3 linked regions of the Homo sapiens genome follow. The protein of the gene in region 1 interacts with the protein of each later gene in a biochemical or structural test. Each region holds a gene or a part of one and is shown in the gene's direction. Other genes may lie near its edges.

Region 1 (8,512 bases):
ACCAGCCTGGCCAACATGGTGAGAGAACAACCCCCTCTCTACTGAAAATACAAAAATTAGCCTGGCTTGGTGTTGGGCGCCTGTAATCCCAGCTATTCAGGCGGCTGAGGCAGGAGAATCGCTTGAATCCGGGAGGCAGAGGTTGCAGTGAGCCGAGATCACGCCACTGCACTCCAGCCTGGGTGACAGAGCAAGACTCTGTCTCAAAAAAAAAAAGGGGCGAGGGCGGGGGCTGAGCCATATGTCATTGTTTATCTTGGTGTCTGACAGACCTATGAGGAGTTTGATGTCTTTGGCCAGTCGGTTCCTGCTTGGCTGACATCAGCTCTTACAGAGGTGGAAGTACACTCAGCCTGCATGGGACATCAAAATGTTGCTTTGGGACATCTGCTAGATAGAAAGTATTTTGTGTGGGATAGGGTGAGCTTTCTGAAAAGCTTTTAGATATTGCCATATTTAATTACTCCCTTCTTGCCTCTCACTCTGTTCGTTTTTTTAGCTCATTACACAACACTGTACTGAACAAAACAAGAAGCCTCATTGAATTCCTTGAAGTGATTTTTGGGCAATGGGCAAAACAACTTATTCAGGCATCTAGTACTATCCAAATTGCTGATAAGTCGAAGGACTTTGTTGGGTAAAGTTGCACAACTGAAAAACAGGAGAAGAAATGTACAGATTATCTTGCGTTTGGGATTTTATCTTTGGTTCAGGGGTCAAAGCAGGGTTTCAATAGCAAATTACTGAAGTATTTGAATAGTGAAGTATTTTTGTGATTTTTTTTTAACTTTACCGCTGTGGAGAGACTGTTCACTTTCATTAAAAATTACAGGGCAAATACCCAAACTCCTTCCAAGTCAAAAGGATGTTGTCCAGTTTGTTTTATTGTTAAGAAAACTATCAACTTCCTTAAGAATGTTTGAATAAGATTCAATAGGGCCGAATAAGGAAAATCAAAGTAGTAGTGTAAATCGTAGTATAATTCTTGTTGTTGAGAAGTATAGCCTTTTTTTTCTTTTCAAATTTTCTTGTTCTTTTTTGTTTTTTGTTTTGTTGAGACAGGGTCTTGCTTTGTCACCCAAACTGGAGTGCAGTGGTACAGTCATAGCTCATGGCAGCTTAGACCTCCTGGGCTCAAGTGATCCTCCTGCCTCAGCCTCCCAAGTAGCTAGGACTGCAGGTGTGCACCCCCACATCCAGCTAATTATTTTATTTCTTGTAGAGTTCGAGTTTCACTTTGTCACCCAGGCTGGTCACCGGCTAACTTATTTTTTGTAGAGATGGAGTTTTGCTTTGTTGCCCAAGCTGGTCACAAACTCTTTTTTTTAAATAGAAACATCTTCAAGCACAATGTCCTTGCTTTCTTGTTATGAAGAGTGCTCTTAAGGCCTTCATGGATTGTCACTGCCTCATAATAATGTTTTGAATACCTACGTAACTTGTATGTAAATACATACTGCTGCAAAAAGACCAACTTTTCAAAAATTTATTTATTTATTTTTTTATTTAAGAAGAATGCCAGTAACTCTTGTTGGCCTGGTCTGGATTTCAGCATCAGGTTGGCCTGGTCTGGATTCCTTTCAATAATGAATGAAAAGCTTTGAGGAAAGAATGTAAATATAATGAAATTTCAAAAGAGTTACATGTGGGCCTTGAAAAGTTAGGGGGAAAGATGAGGAGAAATACTCTTCATTCTCTCCTCCCCTTGTCCCAAAGCTCCTCTCTTCTTCTTCTTGCAAGAGGATTGAACTAGTGATTATAAAACTGTAAAGATTATACAACATACGGCAATGAGTATAATCACAATTATTGGACCACCCTTCACAGTCTATTATGTTAGAGAACGGAGAAGCATTCACAGAAGTTTCTCTGAATCTCTTAGTCATTCCCAAAAACCCAAACCAGAAAATATCTCATGTCATTGTATGTTATGTACAAATTGGCATAAGGAACAGCTCTTAGTTTGTAAAGTCTTTTAGATAATGGAGAAAGCTTCCAGCTTTTAGTTTTCAAGCTTGATCATTAGGAGGAGAATTCACTCTGTGGTTGTTTTCTACTTTGTGTTGCTTGGACAGCACAAACCTCTTATCTAGCCTTGTTTCCTTTCCAAGTAAAAAGGGACTTTGTGAGGATTGGTAGAGTTAGAACACTAAGAAATTCTGAGGCTGTAAATCAGGAACAAATCGGGTGATGGGAAACAGACGTGTTGTTCATCTATTGAGGAAGACACATTTGCTTTTTTATGTGTTACTCAAAAGATTAATATGTAGCCTCTTAATGCCTGTGTACATAACTTTCTCTGTACCACTATGTATTTCCATAGATGATATTTTTGAAAGAGAATTACCCTTAATTAATTAAAGGAAATCTACACTTTTAAGGCTGTTAATACCTATTGTCAAATTATTCTCCAGAATGTTCACTGAAGCCCTAATTGTAATAACAAAGTATTAGAAACAACCATCTCAGTAGTAGTTAACCATTGCCATTTAGATAATGGTTAAAGTATGGTATATCTTTATAAAAGATGAGATGCAATGCAGTTGTTCAAAAGAATGAATGTCAGTATATATTGATAGGGAAGACATCTGAAAAACGACTTACAGAATATGTCAGTATGTGTGTATGGTACAGTTCCATTTCTTTATAAAAACAAAAGCAAAAACAGACCTATATTTCATTGACAAAAACTCTGCAAGTCTCCATGTGAAACTGTCAAAAGTGGCTCCTTTGGGAGTAGGAACGGGAGGTTGGGAGAGATGTTAATTTTTAATTTTATGTACTGATGTTTACGTTTTCTAGGAACACATTTTTCCAGTAAGGAATGGTTTTTCTATGATATAGAATATAATTGTAGTAGCTAAAACTTTCTTAGGGACCTTTCTTATTGTTCTGCGTGCTATATTCATTTAATCCTCCTAACAAAGTCTTCGAGGTAGATACAGTTATTATCTCTATTTTATAGATGAGAAAACTGAGGCACAAAGAGGTTAAGTACCCTGTGCGAGGGTAACAGCTATAACTGAGAGTGGGAGCCTGGCTTCAGTCTCAGCCCCTGACCACACTATACCAGTGTATCCCAAGTACAAATTGTCCGCCTTAAGTAGAAATGCTTTCAGTTATGATTCAGGGTGTGGAGGCCACAGCAGAGATCACTTTTACTAAGCTTTTCTAGGTATGTCTCTTTCAGGTTCCAAAAGTATATATTGGATTATGATTGCTTATGTGTTTTTAATGAAGAAAATAGGATCCAGACATTGATTTGAAAGTCCTTCAAAAAAGTAAAAACCAGGTTGGGAGCAGTGGCTCATACCTGTAAGCCCAGCACTTTGGGAGGCTGAGGTGGGAGGATTGCTGAAGCCCAGGAGTTTGAGACCAACCTGGGCAATGTAGGGAGACCCTGTCTCTACTAAATAAATAAATAAATAAATAAATAAATAAATAAGTCGGGCATGGTGGCATGTGCCCTGTAGTCCCAGCTTCTTGGGAGGCTGAGGTGGGAGGATTGCTTGGGCCCAGGAATCAAGGCCGCAGTGAGCTGTGATTGTGCCACTGTACTACAGCCTGGGTGACAATGCAAGACTGTCTCAAAAGAAAAACAAAAGTAAGGACCAGAAAACCTGATATTGTTTGTTACACCCTTTTTTCTCTTCGATTGCCTACTTCAAGTGAATATTAATTGTATTTTAGGGAAGACTGACTTCCACAGAGACCTATCTGGAACTCCTGGTTCCTTACCTCTGCTTCTGTCAGAGCAGCTCTGGGTTTTGGTTTGTTACTATTGTACACATTAGGCTTCTATACAAGAAGAACTGGTCCCATTGGTTTAAAAATAAGTTTGAAAATCCTAGAAACAGTGAGAGTCAGAAAAAAAAACTGTTTTTATATACATATTCTCTCCCCCACCCCCTTTCTCTCCAGTTGAAATATGTTGCAGAGCTCTAAATTTAGGGATGCTTTTGGCGTATTTCTTATACACTCCAGAGGCACTCGAGATAAATTATCTTCAATGTTAGATCTCTCTTAGCTTTGCTAGTTGTATTTGTTAATCCATTTTGAGTTCTCTAGCCTGTGTCCATTTTATGTGTGTATAGAATGAGGCCATGGAGATGTTGTACAACTGTGTCGTTTGGCAGCAGAGTCCTAAGGAATTGGTGGTGACTATGGGATGGTGGTAGCCACTGGGGCTGCCTCAAATGGAAAGGAAAGGGTTCTAAGTATTTATAAAAGAAAATTCTAGTGTATAACTGAGCATCTTCTATTTACCAGCACTTGATACTACTAAATCGTCACAGCACCCCGGTGTTATTATTATCTCTGTTTACAAATGAGGAAGCTGAAGCTCAGGTCACACAGGTAGACAGGAAGTGATGGGGTCAGATTCCCAGCTAGGTCTGCCTTGGAGCTTTCCTTCTTGTGAGGGTGATGTTCAGTTCACTCTGGAACTGGTGTAGCCATCGCCACATTTAGAGTGCATTTTAGAGTTTGAGCCAGTTTTGATGATTTTACTTCAACTTACTGATGGAACTCCTTGTTCATCCCTGGAACTCTCTAACACTTCTGCTGGGAGTTTAGAGGGATGGCCACACCAAGCTGCTTGGGTACATTTTCTAAAACAAAATTTATTGTAAGAAATGGAAATTATGAACAAAATATACCACTATCTCTTTTTGCTGTGAAGTTAAGTTTATTGGCTACTGTTAACAATTTATTTACTTACTTACTTACTATTCTTTTGTAGAGACAGGGTCTTGCCATGTTCCCCAGGCTGGTGTCAAACTCCTGGATTCAAGCAATCCTGGTGCCTCAGCCTCCCAAAGTGCTGGGATTACATGTGTGAGCCACTGTACCTGGCCTCAACTCTTGTTAAAATTAAAGCACCTTAATACGTTTAGCAAACTCATCAGACCAATAAATATTTTCAAGATGTATGCAGAATTACCAGTGGCACATCCCCTTTTTCTGTGGCTCCACCCCTTCAACTTTTTGTCCAAGAAAACTTTTCGTGTTTGCCTGTAGCTGATGTGCAGTTGTTTCTGCTCCCAAATCAACAGGGTTTAATGAAAACCCTAGAAAGTAGAAACCCGTGGGAGAGAAAAGAAAAAAGACAAGTTCACAAGGTATGTTTAGTGTATAAAAAAGGAGAAGGACTAGAAAGCCTGAGATACAAAGGAAATGAAGAAACTAATCAGTGAGATAGAGATAAAGCTTTTTTCTGAATTTTTAGCATTATTACCTGATTTAGTTAACCAGCTGCATTAATTTTATGCTCCTGATTTGTGCACAAATTGAAATTTTTGCTATTGGATTTAGGTTCCCTCTCTAGGAGTTTCTCAGTTGTTTGCACTAAGTAGGATATAGTTGCTAACTTACTTAGATGACCTTTTATGAAATTTGTAGGTGATATATTTATTTCATTTCTGGAGCAGATACAGCTGAGCAGCTTAGGTAGACTATGAAGAAAGTGTGTGTGTATATATACACCAACTAAAATGTTAAAGGTAAATAGCCTAAAAGTAGCAATTTTTTTTTGAAAAGCAACCTGAGTTTTCAGTAGAGTGTTATTATAAACCAAGCTTTACCCAGAGAGAAATTGACTGAAAAACACGTTTTCTGAGATGTTTTAGAGTTTGAGCTGTTTCTCAGTTGATGGCATGAGCTATTTCAGGAACAGAACTATATAGATCTTTAGACTTTTATTACTTCTTATTTATTTTCTTCAGAATACTTTTACATTTGGTTTGAGGAGAGTCAGAATTCTTATCTGGATTCACCATGTTCACATCTGTGTGCACATGACAGATTTCAGTTCTGCTGTGGTTAACTTATCTGACTTGTCCAACAGGTTCCTGGGTGGAGCTACCCATGAACAGCAGCAATGGCAATGATAATGGCAATGGGAAAAATGGGGGGCTGGAACACGTACCATCCTCATCCTCCATCCACAATGGAGACATGGAGAAGATTCTTTTGGATGCACAACATGAATCAGGACAGAGTAGTTCCAGAGGCAGTTCTCACTGTGACAGGTAAGTGAGACCCATGTTTTGGTGGAATTCAGGAAACAGGTGGGTTACAGGGCTCATTCACTCTAGGAAAAATCTGTTTGCTTAAATCTTCACTTAGCAAAATATGCCTCCTGATATATTGTAGTATAATATATATTGCACAGATATATATTGTGTTTATATGAGACAGCTAATTGACAGGTGCTTCAGTGCCCACTGTTTTTCCCCAGATTGTCATTTTTCTTACCCAGATTATATTGTTTCTAGCAGTTTATCAGTTTAAAATTCAGTGGCATAAATGCTAATTTATAGAATTAATCTGACTTTCCCCCATTTTCCTTTGTGTCCCTGTGTTACAGATCACAGACTGTTCTTGAATTAGTTACCTCTGTATATATGTGTCTTCCCTTCTAGATGTTGACGTTGCAAAGGGCAGGGGCCATGTTTAATTTTTATTACCTTCACAGTAATGGTGCTGGCACGTAGTAGACACTCAGTAAATGTTTGATTCATAGGAACTGCAGGTTGCTTCACGTTATAGCAATATTTGCACAGTTGGAAGCACCAACCAAGGTCTGTAAAGATAGTTTTGAAGTCTCCTCTGCTTTCTCAGGGGATGTTTTGTTTCAGACCTCATTTTTCTATATTTGAGCTGAAGAAACTAATTACATGGATTAAGGACTGCTTATGGTGAAAGAGTAAGAATACAACGAGATATGTGTGTGGAATGAAACCAGGTCATTATTTTTTAGTATAAACTTTTCTGTTTTTTTTTTTTTTTTTCAGAAGGGCTAGATATTAAATGACATTTAAGAAATTCTTGTTTCAGTGACAGCTACACTGTTAGCATTATGGGGCACTGGATGACCTTCTGGGTGGTTGTTAACTGATGTTAACCATTTAGAAAATGCAAATGCACGGGAAGCAGATTAAGGAAATGTAAACAGTGACTATTTTTAGGAATGCAGTATGGATATGTTTCTTCTTAACATTTTTGTATTTTGTAAAAATTGTGTATATTGCACATATTATTACTTATCAGAAGAAGTGAAAAAAAGGAGAAATGAGTTAAATCATGTCCAACTTCCTGAGTGGCTTATGATCCACTAATGTTGCCAAGGCAGCGGGGGACTGGTTTGTTGGCTCTGTGGCACACTGTGCACCCCCGCCACCCCCGTGTCATCCCTGACTTGTCCCTGTGCTTCTTAGAGCCTGGGATGGCTCTTGTCATAAGCGGAACCAGAGCAGATGGCTCTCTTCTGAACAGCTTGCCCTTGATTCCAGTAGCTACAGCATTAGTCTGTCTTTCCGAATGAAGATTTATATTTATATTATGGAACTTGCTGATGGGTTTCTCAAGTTTTCTGCTTGTTATGGCCTGTCAACAAGGCTTTCACTCTGCGTTCAGGTGTGTGGGCCTTGATCATTGATACCATGGTGTCCATGAGCCTGTTGTTCACATGGTGCTGTCAATGAGCAGAGAACAGTCACCTGCTTACCTGTCTGTTCATCTTACTTCATTTATGGTGCAGTTTTACGTGTGACTGAATATGCCTTCACCCTCCTATGATCATGTTTAAGTTTAGGTTGCCATGAGGAGGCATGGCAAATGCTTTTGAACACTTTCGTACCCCTCATCTTATGTCTCTCCAGGCCCTAGATTAGTGGTCATCTTTCAGAGAATGGCTAGAACTCGAGTCTTCTGGGATAGCCTACTAACACGCTTTACCATTGAGGAGTGTCTTCAAAACTCACATCATCTGAATTGCCATGCGTCTCTATATGTGAAAAGTAATTGGAAAGTGTTTCTTGTAGGGGGAAATGTTTTAGGGTTGTTGGGTATCAGTCCTAGAGCTGATTTATGTATATTTTCAACTTAAAAATTATTCCATAGAAATATTTGTGTTGCCGCAGGGGTTGTTAGCTGGGAACCCCAGTGTGTTCTGCTTTGCCTTTCACCCTGTCACAGGGGTTTTCACCTTGACGGCACACTAGATTCACCCAGAAGCTTTTAAAAATGGCAGCACATGGACTGCATCTCAAGAACTTCTCATTTTGGTTGACAGGGGCAGGGTAGAGACGTCACAATATTTTAAAAGCTCCCCAGCCGATTCTAATATGTGCCATGGGTGAAGCTCTAATGCATTCCAAATTGTTAGGAGGAGTAAACAGTTTAGAGAAGAGGTTGGTACCAGTGTGAAGAAGCATATAGAAGCAGAGCAATGCTTCCATAGGATTCTTGACTTTGTCACCCTGACTGCCTTGACCTGGTCACGGCTATGTAAGGCTGACCCTTAACTTGATGTGTAGCTGTGAACCCAACAGTTATGAGCACAAAGATAGTAAACTGAGGCCAGTAGGAGTGCCCAGTTCGGGTTGACTCCTGTGCTAGTTCAAGACAAAAATTTCCTAAATATATATGACGTTGGTTTGATACAGAACCAGCTTTTCTGTTTTCCTGTCCCCATTTAAAAATCTCCTATGTCAATTATACTAGTCTAAAA
Region 2 (8,909 bases), on another chromosome or scaffold:
GGGAAATGCAACAGATAGGCACCCAAAAGATAAGAACAAGAATGTTAATAGCAGCATTGCTTACAATAATCAAAACTAAAAACAGCTCAATGTCTATCAAGAGTAGAATAGATAAATAAATTATGGTATATTTATGTAATAGAAACTCAAGAAACTATCACTACACTTGACAACATGAATAACCCTCACAAAGCTAATGTTGTGAGAAAGAAGCCAGACTCAAAAGAGTGTGTAATGTATGATCCCATCTACCTAAAGGACAAAACTTAGGAAAATTAATCTCTGGTGTTAGAATTCAGGTTACCTTTGGGCAGGAGTAAGGAGAAGAGATTTAGGAGAGAATCTGGGAGGTTTCTGAGTACTGGTGATTATCTACTTTTTTGTCTGAATGGTGAATACAAGGGTATGTACACTCATCTTTTGCATTCTTTTCTGAATATACTTTATACTTAAATAAAAACTTATTTAGAAGTTATCTAGGATTAAGAAACCACTGTTAGACTGAATTTGAGCATTGAGTTGATGCTTATCAAATCAATGAAGTCTCACCAGCAACCATAAACAGATCAGTCTTATTTACTTATTATATTATTTTTTAATCCAGTTTTAATTTTACAATAGATTTAGATTTACAGAAAAGTTGCAGTGAATAGACTGACATTTACAGAAGAATTGCAATGACAATACAGAGAGTTCCATACATCACTCATCTAGTTTCCCCTTATTGTTAAGAGCTCATGTTACAATAGTATGTTTATTACAACTAAGAAATCAGCACTGGTGTGTTATTATTAAATAAATTCTACTCTTCATTCTAATTTCACTAGTTTTTCTACTAACGTCCTTTTTCTGTTCCAGGATTTCATTCAAAATATCATATTAGATTTTTTGAAAAGATAAGTAAAATCGACAAACCATTAGCCAGACTAAGAAAAAATGAGAAATGACCCAAATAAACAAAATCAGAGATAAAAAAGGAGACATTACAACTGATACCAGAGGAATATAAAGATCATAAGAAACTATTAGGAACAATGATATGCCAACAAATTTGGTAACCCAGAAGAAATGGATAAATTTCTGGACACATACAACCTACCAATACTGAATCATGAAGCTATAGAAAATGTGAACAAATCAGTAACAAGTGGCAGATTGAATTAGTATAAAAGGTCTCCTATTAAAGAAAAGCCCAGGACATGATGGCTTTACTTCTACCAAACATTTAAATAACAAATTGCAATTCTTCTCAAACTCTTCCAAAAAACTGAAGAGGGGGAAATACTGCCAAGGTCATTCTATGGGGCAGGCATTACCCTGATAGCAAAATCAGGCAAGGACACAACAAAAAAACAAAGCTTATAGGCCAGTATCCCTGATGAATATAAATGCAAAAATCTTCAACAAAAGAGATCACTAACGATGGTCAAGAAGGATTCATAGCAGACATGCAAGAATGATTCAACATAAAGCAAATTAATAAATGTGATACATCACTTTAACAGAATGAAGGACAAAAACCACATTGATCATTTCAATAGATACAGAAAAACATTTGACACAATTCGTTATTTTTCTCTGATAAAAGCTCAATGAATTAGGTATAAAAGGAATGTACTTCAGTACAATAAAGGCCATATATGACAAGTCCCCAACAGCTAATACACTGAATAGACAAAAGTTGAATGCTTTTCCTCTAAGAACCAGAACAAGACAAGGATGCCCGCTTTCTCACTTCTATTCAACATAGTACTGGCAATCCTAGCTAGAGCAGTTAGGTAAGAAAAAAATAAGGCATCTAAATTGTATAGAAGTTAAACGGTCCTTGTTTGCAGATGATATGACCTTATATATATAGAAAAACCTAAAGACTTTACTAAAAAAAACTGTTATAATAAATTTAGTAAGTTTGCAGGATGTAAAATCAACATACAAAAATCAGTAGCATTTCTATACACAGAAAGCACACTATTTGAAAAAGACATCAAGAAAACAATTCCACTTACAATGACTACAAAAACAACCCATAAAATAAAATACTTAGGAATAAATTTAACCAAGGAGGTGAAAGATCTGTACACTCAAACTATAAAACCTTGATGAAAGAAATTAGAGAAGATGCAAAAAATGGAAAGATATTCTGTGTTTATGGATTGGAGGAATAGTTAAAATGTCCATACCTACCCAAAGCAATCTACATATTCAATGCAGTCTCTAACAATATATCAATGATGTTCTTCCCAGAAATAGAAAAAAAAATCCTAAAATTTGTATGGAACCACAGAAAATCCTGGATAGAGAAAACAATGTTGAGCAAAAAGAATAAAGCTGAAGTCATCACAATACGTCACTTCAAAATATATTACAAAGCTATAGCAATCGAAACAGCATGGTAGTGGCATAAAAACAGACACATTAACTAATGGAACAGAATATAGAGGCCAGAAATAAAGCCACACATCTATGGTCAATTGCTTTTTTTACAAAAGGTGCCAAGAACACACAATGGAGAAAGGACAGTCTGTTCAACAGTGTTGGCAAAAACTAATGTCCACACGCAGAAAAATGAAATTAGAACCTTATCTCTCACCATATAGAAAAGTCAAGTCAAAATGGATTAAAGGCTTAAATTTAAGACCCAAAACTATGAAACTTCTAGAAGAAAGCATAGGGAAAAGTCTCCATGACATAAGTCTGGGCAAGATCTTATCTTTTTGGTTAAGATCTGAAACACATAGGCAACAAAAGTGAAAATAGACAAATGGGATAACATCAAGCTTAAAAGCTTCTGCATAGCAAAGGAAACAATCAAGTGAAGAGACAACCCACAGAATGGGAGAAAATATTTGCAAACTATTTATTTAACAAGGGATTAATAACCAGAATATTTTATATAAGGAGCTCAAACAACTCAATAGGAAAGCAAAAACAAAAACAAAAACAAAAACAAATAATCCAATTAAAAAATGGGCAGAAGATCTGAACAGGCATTTCTCAAAAGAAGACATACAAATGGCCAACTGGTATATGAAAAAATGCTCCTTATCACTAATCATCAGATAAATGCAAATCAAAACAATGAGATATCTCACCCCAGTGAGAATGGCTTTTATCAAAAAAAAAAAAAAAAAAAAAAAGCCAGGAACAAAAGATACTGGTGAGAATGTGGAGAAAGGGGAACCCGTGTGCACTGTTGGCAGGAATGAATATTACTAGAGCCACTGTGAAAAACTGTTTGAAGATTCTTCAAAAAACTAAAAATAGAACTACTATATGATTCAGCAATTCTACTATTGGGTATAGATCCAACAGAAAGGAAATACATATATCAAAGAGATATCTGCACTTCTATGTTTATTGCAGCACTATTTACAATAGCCAAGATTTAGAATTGACCTAAGTGTCCGCGCAACAGATGAATGGATAAAGAAAATGGGGTACATATACACAATAGAATATTATTCAGCCATAAAACCCTCCACAAAATCCTTTTATTTGCAACAAACATGGATAGAACTGGAGGTCATTATGATGAGTGAAATAAGCCAAGCACAGAAAGGCAAATAATGCATGTTCTCACTCATATGTGGGAGTTCAGAAAGTGGATCTCAGAGACTGAGAAGTATTGGGGGGGTGGGCCATGGGGGAGCAAGGGGAGGTAAACATACACTTAGAAGAAACATACACTTAGAAGAAATAAGACCCGGTGTTCCATAGATCAGTAGGGTGACTACAGCTAACATTTATCAATAGTACATGTCAAAATAGCCAGAAGAGAACAATTTGAATGTTCCTAGCACAAAGAAAAGATAAATATTTAAGGGGATGAGTAACCCAGTTATGCTGATTTGATTACAGAAATGAATCAAATTATCACATATACCCTGAAAATATGTACAGCTATTATGCATCAAAAAGTTGAAGAAAATAAAAATTTTAATTTTTTTGTATACAATGTATATTGCATATCATATATTGATTCTGTTCATATATAAGTAAATATCCTTACTGGTTTGCCTCATTGGAGCATTCAGACAGCAAATAATGTGTAGTTCAACATTTTATTAAATATTTTCCATCTTAGTGGATATTTTGTAACAAGATAAATATGATGCAAACTAAAAAAAGTGCCAAGGGCGGGCGCGGTGGCTCACGGCTGTAATCCCAGCACTTTAGGAGGCTGAGGCAGGTGGATCACAAGGTCAGGAGATCAAGACCATCCTAGCCAATATGGTGAAACCCCGTCTCTACTAAAAATACAAAATATTAGCTTGGCGCCCTTGTAGTCCCAGCTACTCGGGAGGCTGAGGCAGGAGAATCGCTTGAACCTGGGAGGTGGAGGTTGCAGTGAGCCGAGATCGCGCCACTGCACTCCAGCCTGGCGACAGAGCGAGACTCCGTCTCAAAAAATACATAAATAAATAAATAAAGTGCCATACTGAATCTACCAAAAATAAATCAAAATGAGTAAGAGAGGCTGCCAGACCATCTTCTTCATCAGAGGTAATGGTCAGAGGCTTCTGAACGTTGGTATGGAAATGAGCCTGCAGGCAGGATTTGTATGCAGGGAAGAGGAGGTTTGTAAACTAGGTGAATTATACCTTCAGAGTGCATATAATGTATATTATACTTTTCCTCTACGTATGCGTACCAGCCGTATTACCTATGTATCATCTGATCCACCAAGTCTGGACTGAAGAAGTCCTTGTAGGACCACACTACACATGGCGAGCCGGTACTCGGAAGGGATTATTCCGAAGAGGATTTGTAGACACTACCCGCTGTGTATGACCTAGGCCCTTTACACGGGCACCACTGGAGCTAGGAAGCCAGCAGAAAGCTCCTCCCCCTGGCCTGGGAGCGGGCTGTCCGTAGGACCCAGAGCACCTCCCATGGGAGAAACGCCCGGCTTTGCTTCTGGCCCCGCCCCGCCTCCCTCCAGGCCCCGCCCCGCCTCCCCGGCCCCGCCCCAACCCCGCGGCCCCGCCCCTCCTCCCCGGCTCCGCCCCGCCTCCCCGGGCCCGCCGCTCCTCGCGGCCTCCGCGTCTTCCTTCCGGGTCGCGCTAGGCCGGGCTTGCGGCGGTTGTGCCGCATCTAGAGAGTCGGGGAGCCGCCCCCGCACCCAGGCCTTCTCGCGCTGCCTGGTCGCTGGTGAAGCCCGCGGCGCGCGCCTCTCCCGGACCCTGCAGGGTACGGCCCTTCCTTTACTTCTCCCTCCCGTGGGTCTCTGTCTTCTTCCTTTGGCGCCGGGGCGGGGCCGGGGCCGAGCCAGCGCGCAGCTCCGCGCTTTGGGGAGTCTGGACGCCTGGCAGAGGCCCCCGCTGCCCGCCCCTCCCCGCCCGCGGCCCCGCGCCCCCGCGCCTCCGCTTCACGCTTGCGGGGCTTGCTGGGGCCCTTGAGAACTGCTGACGTGCCTCGGGCTCTTTCTACGCTACAGTCTGCCTGCAGGCTGTGAGGCGTCGTTCGGACGTGTGCGCGGCTCAGGGTTGTTTACACCGCGGGGGACTGCGGGTCGCCCCACACCCGCGCTCAGTGCTGCGCCGGCAGCCACGCGTCGGCCACATGCCCGCCTGTGCTTGTGATTCCTGTGCCTGCTGCCTTGATTTCCCTCTGACATCCGATGGTTTTTGCCTAACCAGGCCTGTTTTCTTTCTTCAGGACTGCTACAGGGTGCCCAGCTACAACCTTGTTTCTGTGTTTAGGTTTAGGGGTGCCCCTAGAGTGTGATGATGACCATCTACTTGGCCTCCTTGTCGACATATTTATAACGGGTGGTTTTGGATTTCCTTGATTTCCCAGTAATCATTGCCACAAACCTTCGAGATGCATTCACAGATTGAAATACAGTATACAAATAACTATTATAGAAGGTGAAGATGGTATAAGCCTGTGGTCAGGTAGTTGCGTTGGCAGGATGCCCGTCTGGCTTTGTGCTCCGGAGGGCACATTACCACCAGGTGCAGGGATCTCTGCTTGCTTTGGTCTGTTCACAGACACAAGCTGCCTTTTCTGGTTCTTGCGTGCACTCCTTGGTTTCTTAAGTTCAGCTATAGGTATATATTTTTTTCTTTCAGGCTCACTTCCTGCCTCCATTATCCTGTACCGCATATTGTATCTGTTGGTTGAGTAGAGAGAGATTCATCCAGAGTCATCAGCGCTCCAATAGTCCTTTATCAGATTAAGGACTTGAGGGAAATGTGCATTATGCTTTAGTAGGCACTCTAAAAGTTCCTTGAATTGGATTCTTCTTTCCATACTTATGTTCTGAGTACTAACTTTGTTTTAAACTTCTGCGCCAAAAGTTGGCTTTTCTGAACTCTGCATTTTCAAACTCTTCCCTTCTGTTATTTGAAAATCAGATAAGTCAACTCATTGTAAGATGGATAATTTCTTTACTCACGCCGTGATGAAATAATGCGATTATAGTACTCTGTACAATGGTACATATGGTACTTGCACATATGGTCAGTTAACAAAAACTGCCCCTTCTTTCTTTACTGTGTTAGTCTCATCCTCTTAATGTTGCTGCGGTTAACATTCTCGATCTTAACTTCGCGGATCTAACACAGTGTCCTTTAAAAAAGGCCTTTATCTACATGAATTGTATATAAATATCCACCTCCGTTTTCTTCTAGTATTGTTAATGATCTTATTTATATTTAATGTGAGATAAGAAGGCTCTAACTTTATAATTTTGTTAGTGACTCCATCATCATTTGTTGGAATTCTATTTTTCCCTGCTGATCAGTCCTATAAATACCATAGGCCCTAAATTCCCGTGTATTCTTGGGACTTTCTGAACGGTCTAGTATTCTTTGGCTCCCTGTGGTGATCCTGGCTTCTGTGATGCTCTTATTGCTCTAGGTTTATAATGTGTTTTAATATCTAGGGATTTGAACGATGCCTGGCATATTGTAGACATCACTAAATATTTTTGAAATGAACACATTTAGTGGGGGCAAGTTGATTCCCTTTCTTTACCTCTTGCCTCCCTCCCCCCTTTAAAATTTTCCTGCCAGTTATTGAGATTCATTTATTTTAGCTTGCTTTTTCCATGGTCAGTTGAATCATTAACTGTTAGTAAATAAATCCCTTCTGTTGCTCATTCAGAACTTGCGACTAGAGTTGCTCCTTACAGTTACATAGAGAAGCAGCCTGATTAAAAATCTGCATGCCTTTTGACTTTGCACCGTGTCATAGTAACTGTAGTGTGTCTCTCCCCATCACCTGTGATTTAGGATGTTCTGTACCTGGTTTCTAAGAGAAAAATGGTTATCTAAGAGATAAATGGCTGTAGAAGTGTTCCCTGGGATATGAGGAAGATATCCTCATATCCATTTGTATTTTACCATCACAACTGGATATCTAAAATATAATAAATTTTACACTGGACACTTAAAACTTTATTAGCCCATGAAATAAATGTATGCATTCTTTAAAAAAGATCAAGCAATACAGAAATCCTTAAAGGAGGAAGTGAAAGTGCTGTGTGCCCACCTACCCAGTAACCTTGTTCCATAAAGATGATCACTGCTTGCAGATTTTAAAAATAAATATATTTAAGTCTACTTTTGTTTCATAAATGGCAGTGTACCATCTATAATTTTCTATAGCTTCCACTTAATAATAATTGATAAACATCCTTCTGTGTCAGTGCATATAATAGTATCTTGTCTTTTTTGTAAGTCTTTTGGTATTTCATTGTAGGAATAACCCAAAAGTTATTTAGCCAGTCCCCTGTTGGCATTATTCCAAATTTATTACAAACAGAACTGCAAGGATCATTTTTGTGTTTATTCTGTATACTGTCATGTTTGCATGTTAGTTCATTTCCTAAGATATGGAATTGCTAGGTCAGAGGCTACACATAAGTGTTAAATTATGAGAGATTCTGCCAAAGTGCTCCTCAAAAGTTGTTGGTAAGAGTAAATTTATACAATTTGTTAAAATATTGCTTTTGCCATATCACATTGCCAAGAATTGTCAAGGATCTGAGATCATACCCTACTTGCAAGCTAACAGTTTCATGGAAACTGGCAGAAAATATGAGACTCCTGACTCAGAGACAAAGCACAACAGGAACGGTAGCCAGAGGATCATCTTATGCTGATTTGCTGGAACCCTGATTTCCACAGGGTGATGTGATAAGAGCCCAGTGACACTAGCAGATGAAGTAGGTTATGTTACAGGAGAGGAGTCCTTAGTTTAGGGAACCTGAATCTTTCATAGTGGGCTGCAAATAAAGCTGTCTGATCTTTGCCAGAGAGGGAGACATTATCTTTATTTTCCCACATGGTAAACAAACCTGCCCTCTGTACCAGAGGGAGACATCTCTTTATCTGCCAAGGCTATTTGCTATATAAACACCACTGAAAAGATAAAAAATAAAGGCCGTCAGTGCCTCTACTTATATGATATGCAGAAACTTGAGAGGCCTGCTAAGATGAAATGATTATTTTTTATATTTAGTAATTTTATGGATGAAAAATGCTATTTTATTGTTTTAGTATTGCATTTCTTTGCTTATTGATGAGGTTGACTATCTGTATGTTTGTTGGTCATTTGTATTCGTTTTTACTTGCATGATCATATCCCTTGCTTAGGTTTCTGTTGAAATGTTCCTCTTTTCTAATTGATTTGTAATAGCTCTTTACATATTGTGGCTATTAATGATTTGGTTCACCATTTGCTAGTATTTTCTCATAGTCTATTCTTTAGTGTTTCTTGGGGCTTTTGCTTTATAAAAATCTTTAATATTTATGTTGCCAGTTCTGCTGTTGTTTTCCTTTACGGCCTCTGGGTTTCCACCGGAAGATTATTAAAATACTCTTTGTACACATTCTGTTATCATAGATATAGATTTTTAAAAATGGTTGCTATGGCATACTATTACAAATTTATTTTTCCAA
Region 3 (7,000 bases), on another chromosome or scaffold:
CTTCTCCACACGCAGAGGCCCTGCCCCCTCTCAAGTCTCTATGCTACATTATCTTGGGTAATTAGCTCCTTTCCTCCCAACTCCTCCCCTATCCAAAGGGAGTGAGGGGTATGTGCCAGTGCCTCCCCTGGGTTTGCATCGACCTCAAAAGGCCCTCCAGGTGTTTGAAAATCTCTCCCATCCCATGGCGGTGACCACGGCCCCATTCACTTAAGAGCTCTTTGCTGAAGCTGTTGGAATGGCCAGGGCTGATTATACTGAAACATTCGTATGGTTTCAAATACTTTCAACTGTTTCGCTGTTTCTCTCTTTTCTCTAATTAAAAAAAATGAAAATTCTTAAAAGTCAATTCATCTAAGGATCCTTCCACCTTAGTTCCTTGTAAGCCTTGAAATGGCCAAAACAAAAAGATTACAAGCGTTCTTAAAAATGAGATGAAATCATTCTGTCAAATGTGAAATGACTAAGTGTAACACATACAAATTTCAGGGAAATTTATCTGTCATCCCTATAAATTAATCCTTTTGGATCTGATTTTGGAGCAATTAGCCTGAATGTTAGTCACCCCTCCCTACTTGGCTAAACTCTCCCCTCCTGCCTGGGGTCTCCTTAAGATGAGATGCTTCTTTGATAACTAACATTTATTAAATTCCTACTGTAGACCAGACATATTTGCATAAATTATTTCACTTAATTCTCCCAGCAATCCTGGGCAATAGACATTATCAACCCAATGTTTTAGGTGAGAAAAACTGAGGTTTAGGGAAATTAAGTAATTTACCCTAAGCAACATACTATTAAGAAGCAGATCTAGGATTTTACAACATAGGGAACATAAAACAAGGACAGGAAATGCATGGTTACTAATTATCTGGCCCCTACTCCAAATGCAGTTTTTAAGAGAAGAGAGAGGACCTCAGGCTGCAGCAGGGAGAACAGGTTTCTTGGCAGGGGCATTTGCACAAAGCCCCCACACCACCCAAGACCACTGTAGACAGATCTCCTCAGCTGTCCAGAGCCCAACAAACTGGAACACAGCCAATGGCCACAAAGTAGACCCTGGAGGACAGAAAAGAGGGGTCCCAAAGTACATAAATACCTTATTTACTTGTGTAATACTTACAGCAATCCTATGATGCAGGTACTGTCATCATTACCTAATTATGACCCAGGACAAGTGTGGAGCCAGGATTCAGAGTGGCGTGAGAGCTCACAGATTGTATTCAGAGGCTTGCCTCCTCCTGGTTCAGATCCTATTTACATACCTTTATATTTTTTATTATTTTTATTTTATTTATTTATTTATTTATTTTGAGACGGACTGTCACTCTGCCACCCAGGCTGGAGTGCAGTGGCACGATCTCGACTCACTGCAACCTCTGCCTCCTGGGTTCAAGCGATTCTCCTGCCTCAGCCTCCTGAGTAGCTGAGACTACAGGCGCCCGCCACCACGCCTGGCTAATATTTTGTATTTTTAGTAGAGATGGGGTTTCACCATGTTAGGCAGGATGGTCTCGATCTCCTGACCTCGTGATCTGCCTGCCTCGGCCTCCCAAAGTGCTGGGATTACAGGCGTAAGCCACCACGCCCGGCCGGCACATGCCTTTCTACCAAGGCGAGTTCCACAGTTTCTGAAGATTCAATTAGACCTTAAATAGATTAGCGTGGTGGGGGAAGGGTTGCTTCAGGTCACACTCTGGTAGCAGCAAGAAGTGACAACTGATACCTTGACAGGAAGGGAGGAAACAGAAAAGCTATATTAAAAAAAAAAAAAAGGCTGACAGGAGAACTCAAAAAGACAAAAGTGTGGTAATTTGGGAAAAGAACAAAAGAGTTTCCCTGTATTGCAGCCCAGAGTAATCGCTGGTGTAAATACAGAGTCCCTGAGTCATGGGAAGCCATGAAGCTTTGCTCCAGAGACAGGGAAGGGTGCAGCCACCATGGTGAAAAGCAAAAATGATGAGGGCAGCAAAGCCTGGCAGTCTGGAATCTCGGCTAACCAACAGTCGCTCTCCCAGAGTTCTGGTTAATTGAGGTCATACAGTATTTTCATGTATTTCAACTCCACGCGTGTATGCATTGTGTCCCTACTGCATGCCAGATACCGCATCAGGCCCTGGGGCAATCCAGCTCCCTCAGGGAGCTGACAGTCCAATGAGGGAGTCTATAAAGTTCAGGCCAGACAAAAGCAGAGAGAACCGGAGAACAGGCTGGATGCGTAACATGGCAGCCCCACCTAATCTGTGAGCGGTGGGTGCAACAGGACCACTTCCTTGAGGAAGTGACATTTAAGCAGAGCCCTAAAGGATGAAAAGAAATCAGAACAGGCCCTTCTGGAATCTTGCCTCTTGAGGGAAAGCCTGCATCTGGGACCCTGAGGCTCCTGGTCTGCAGATGTTCCCAGCACTGAGTGTGTTGCTGCCCTGGAGGAGGTGCGGCAACACCAAGGTTCCACCTCCTCTGTTGCCTGTGCCTGTCCTGCTGGTCTCATGAGGACCACAGACTCCCTCCTGGGTTGATCCAACCTGTCTATCCCCCTGACTCCTCTGTTTCCTTCCCCACCAAACCCTGATGAGGCCGCAGGATATTTTAAAAGGCTGGAGGGAAAGGAGTGTCTTGGCCATGATCTGGCCAATGTAGAAGAAGCAGAATGCCCAAAACAAGCTTGTAAAGCTTCCCTCTGGTCCCACGACCCCAAAGCCCATACTTCTCAGCATCAAATGAGGGCTGCATGGTCTGGAGCTAGCAAAGCAGGCTTTGGAGTTTTATTAGACATTAAGTTTTTTTTAAAGGAACAGAAATATAAAGCAAGCCTCCACCAGCCCCTTCCCCTGGGGAATCTGGTGTTAAATTGTTACATCCACGAGCAAAGATGCTTCAGTGGCAGGAACCTGACTCCCCTTTCCCTTGGTTCCAGCCCTGTTCCCAGTGGCCACATGGGGGAGGGGGAGGACTGGTGGCTGGAAATCAAACCGTGGCAGGGCAGGGCTGCTGGGTGGTGAGAGCAGCCACTGTCCCATCATTGATAACAGTTCTCCCTTTCTCTCCATCTTGGTGCGAGGCTTTTGCCAAATGGCTGGCCTTTTGCCCTGGCACCAGGCTGTTGCCATCTCTGTAGAGAAATGAAGACTCAGAGGGAAGATGGGCAAGCAAGACCCCCAGTGTAGAGTCAGGATTCAAACCCAAGACCCTGGCCCTCTCCTTTCTGCTCTTGGGCATGGACATCTTCCATTTATTATTTAATATGTGGAATTAAGGACCTGGAGTAAGGCCCTGCTGGCCTTTGTTAGAAAAAGGCCCTCCTCTGGGTAGATACAACCCAGCAGGTGCAAAGCTTAGCAAATGGAGTTTGGGATAGGTTTCAGCTCTACTTGCCCCGTTGGCTGGGAGCCCTGTGCAAGCTACAACCTGTCCAACCATTCATGACATCCCTGTTGGTAGGCCCTCCGCTGGGCCTCTGGCCACCTTCCCCATGTGGTATATCCTTGGGATTCCAGGAGTTGCTGTAACCCCAGGATGAACTTTGCAGAAGGTCAGCAGCTGAAGCTCTGACCTCACACCCCCAGCAGCCTGCACGGGCACACTGTCCCTCACTTGCCTTTCCCCTGTCAGCTTTGATGTTCCTAACGCCTCCCTGGTGAGCTCATCCCAGCCCAGGTGGTTCTAATAGAAGGCAGTGGGAGGAGGGTGTTTGATTCCCCGGAAGAACCCCCCCCAACCCACCCCAGCTTTCTCTTGCCAGTCTGACCCTCCGATCTCCCTCCATCCAGGTGTCCCTTGGAGGTGCCAAGGAGGCATGCCCCACAGGCCTGTACACACACAGCGGTGAGTGCTGCAAAGCCTGCAACCTGGGCGAGGGTGTGGCCCAGCCTTGTGGAGCCAACCAGACCGTGTGTGAGCCCTGCCTGGACAGTGAGTAGAGGGTGGCGGGCAGGAGGAGGGGAGAAGAATGGGAGGGAGGAGAGGGGTGAAAGGGAGGGGCGCTGGGGAGAAGCATGCCCAGTAGAGGCCTTATAAGACCACCACTGTAAGGTCATCAGAAGTGGGTCTGACCCAGTGTAGGAGGCGCTTCTCCCAGATTCGAGAAGCTGAGAATGGAGAAGGGAAGTGTGCAGAGGGAGGAGGGGAACCCCATGGGGGATCTCCAAGGGGTGCCCATTCCCAGCTCTGGAGAAGGCAGAGGCTTGGTAGAAGAGTGTGGCTGGGCAGGGAGGAGTAGCTGATGCTAAGACCAGCTAAAAATATCATCTGCACTGCAAAATCAATGGCTGCCACTTATCCCCGGTGTGTTTGGGGGAAGGGAGAGGAGGATCAAATCCTGGCTGCCCTGAAGGCTGACCTTGGGGGATCCTGGGGGTGTGGCTGTTCCTCCCTACAGGCCAACTCTTCTCCAGCTTTGACCAGGAAGCAGAGTTTTCCCGAGGCAGCAGGGATGGGGGTCAGAGCGCCATGAAGACGTCCTTACTGTGGGGTGACAGAGGGGAGGGGAGACGGGGAGCTGTGCCCATTCCTGCCTGGGATTTCTTCCTTCCTTCCTTCCTTCCTTCCTTCCTTCCTTCCTTCCTTCCTTCCTTCCTTTCTCTCTCTCTCTTTCTTTACCTTTCTTTCCTTTCTTTCCTTTCCTTCCTTCCTTCCTTCCTTCAACAGAGTTTTGCTCTGTTGCCCAGGTTGGGAGTGCAATGGCATGATCTCAACTCACTGCAACCTCCACCTCCTGGTTTCAAGTGATTCTCATGCCTCAGCCTCCTGAGTAGCTGGGACTACGGGTGCATGCATGCCACCATGCCTGGCTAATTCTTGTATTTGTAGTAGAGATGGGGTTTTACCATGTGGACCAGGCTGGTCTCAAACTTCTGGCCTCAAGTGATCCACCTGCCTTAGCCTCCCAAAGTGTTGGGATTAGAGGCGTGAGCCACCGTGCTCGACCCTGCCTGGGATTTCTTTCAGGAGGGGAGAGAATCTCATCTTCCTGGGCTGGTGGGTCTGGGCCCCTTGGCCCCAGTCTTGTCCAGGGTCTGAATTCCCTCATGCTTTTGAGTCAGGAGTCTCGGTCCCTGATCGGTGCCCCCAGTCCTCAGTTGCTGCCTTTGGGCCGTGGGCTCCCTGCCCTTTTCCTGACTCCCTGCCTTCTACCTGGCACTCGATGCCCACCTGGAGGGCTCGAGGGAACCATACTCAGATTATTCTTTAATCCGGCTGGGAATAAGGGGATAGAGCTGGGGCCTCTGAACCCACCTGCGGACCTAGTGTTACCTCTGGATGTCCCCCCTGAGTCTATCTGTCCTCCAGGCAACCCCAACTCTTGGTGTTCCCCAGACACACTGTTTTCCCATCTCTGTGCTTGTGGATCCTGTAACACCATTCCCCAGCCAAGAAATGCCTGGGCGTATGTGTGGAGGTGGGACATCCTCCAATGCCTTTGCCGTCTTGCTTCATGGCCACCTGCTCTGGCCCTGGCCTAACAGGGTTTCCATTCCAGGGCGGGGGTGGCCAACCATCAGCTATCCCAGAACCTCCAAATCTGCCTCTCTTGCTTCCTAGACTCCAGCCCAGGACTCTCCTCCCAGGACCTAAATGATGGGAACCCTTTCCCTTCAGTCAAAGGACCTTCAGCAGGAGGTGGGGCGGAGGACACCAGGAGAGGGAAGTTCCAGAATCTCTGGAAGGGAAGGGAGGCAGGCAGAGAGGTGGCTTTGAGAATCCTCCCTTCCACTTCCTCCCTCCCCTCCATTTTCCCCTCCTTCCCTGTCTCCCCCTCCTCCACCTCCAGCTGCATTAACAGGCTGCCTTTACAAGCCCACTTTATGGGACGGAGACCCCAGCGGACTTTCCCTCTACCCTTAAAACGTTTCCACAAGGAAACCTATTAAGCCCCTGCCTTCATTCTCTGCCAAAAAAGACCACATTTTTCACACCACCTAAAACCCTCTCCCAGGAGTTTTCTGCTAATTTTCTGTGTTTTGCCATGAGCAGGCTTCTCCTCTTCCCCTCCTGTGTGACTAGACTTACCCTCCATCACACGCCAGCCAGCCAGGACCCTCTTGTTTGTATAGCTCAGACATCCTGCCTTTGCTGTTTGTGTTTGGACGTTCTTTCTGCTGTCTGACCATATTCCTACCTCCAAAGTTCAATGTCCTCATCGCTCTCCACCCCCATGGGGCCCAATCTTTATAGGATCCCAACTACGTGCCAAAGCTTTATGGCTGAATTTCATTTATTCCTCACTACAACCCTGTGACTGCAGATATTGCTCCTTATTTTTACAGAGAAAGAAAAAGCTCAGAGAGGTTAAGTAAAACACCCAAAGTCACACAGCTTATAAGCGATGGAAATGGATTTTGAATCCAGATCTGCCTGCTCCTAGGAAAAGGGACACAGGGTTCCTCTGTCAGAATTCACTTGAAACTGAAGTCTCCCTCCAGGCCCTTCTTCCTGGGTCTTTTCTTCTCTCCTCTACCCTTTTTCTTTCTTTCTTTCTTTTTTTTTTTTTTTTTTTTTTGACAGCGTCTCACTCTGTCACCCAGGCTGGAGTGCACTGGTGCAGTCTTGGCTCACTGTAACCTCTGCCTCCCATGCTCAAGCAATCCTCCCACCTCAGCTTCCCGAGTAGCTGGGATTACAGACGTGCACCACTACACCCAGCTAATTTTTGTATTTTTTATAGAGATGGGGTTTTGCCATGTTGGCCAGGCTGGTCTTGAACTCCTGGCCTCAAGTGATCTGCTCGCCTTGGCCTCCCAAAGTGCTGGGATTACAGGAGTGAGCCACCACGCCCAGCCTTTGTCCCCAGTTCTGCCCCTTTCACTTCTCTCTGGCTTTTCCTTCTTTGCCTCCTCATCCCCCCACCACACCCCCGAAGCCAGTGACCCCTTGCTCCATCTTGTCTCTGATGCCTTTGAATAATGTTGAGACCCCCCTACAGGCCTCAGTTTCCCCCTAATGGCGCTTTAGCCTTTCTGCTTCTGCTTCCACATTCTGAACAATCTGTCCTTCCCTGGTT

The links.
Region 2: the proteins of BNIP3L (region 1) and FBXL4 form a complex in vitro, tested with the Homo sapiens proteins (one study listed by BioGRID).
Region 3: the proteins of BNIP3L (region 1) and NGFR form a complex in vitro, tested with the Homo sapiens proteins (one study listed by BioGRID).

Annotation. Positions count from the first base shown.
Region 1 is NC_000008.11:26,385,398-26,393,909, forward strand, and holds part of BNIP3L (BCL2/adenovirus E1B 19 kDa protein-interacting protein 3-like), read left to right. Parts: intron 1-5,015; exon of another isoform or gene 5,016-5,120; intron 5,121-5,845; coding exon 5,846-6,029; intron 6,030-8,512.
Region 2 is NC_000006.12:98,944,087-98,952,995, reverse strand, and holds the start of FBXL4 (F-box/LRR-repeat protein 4), read left to right. Parts: upstream 1-5,049; 5' UTR 5,050-5,190; intron 5,191-5,393; exon of another isoform or gene 5,394-8,909. UniProt on the Homo sapiens protein: Substrate-recognition component of the mitochondria-localized SCF-FBXL4 ubiquitin E3 ligase complex that plays a role in the restriction of mitophagy by controlling the degradation of BNIP3 and NIX mitophagy receptors.
Region 3 is NC_000017.11:49,498,293-49,505,292, forward strand, and holds part of NGFR (tumor necrosis factor receptor superfamily member 16 precursor), read left to right. Parts: intron 1-3,770; coding exon 3,771-3,912; intron 3,913-7,000. UniProt on the Homo sapiens protein: Low affinity receptor which can bind to NGF, BDNF, NTF3, and NTF4. Forms a heterodimeric receptor with SORCS2 that binds the precursor forms of NGF, BDNF and NTF3 with high affinity, and has much lower affinity for mature NGF and BDNF.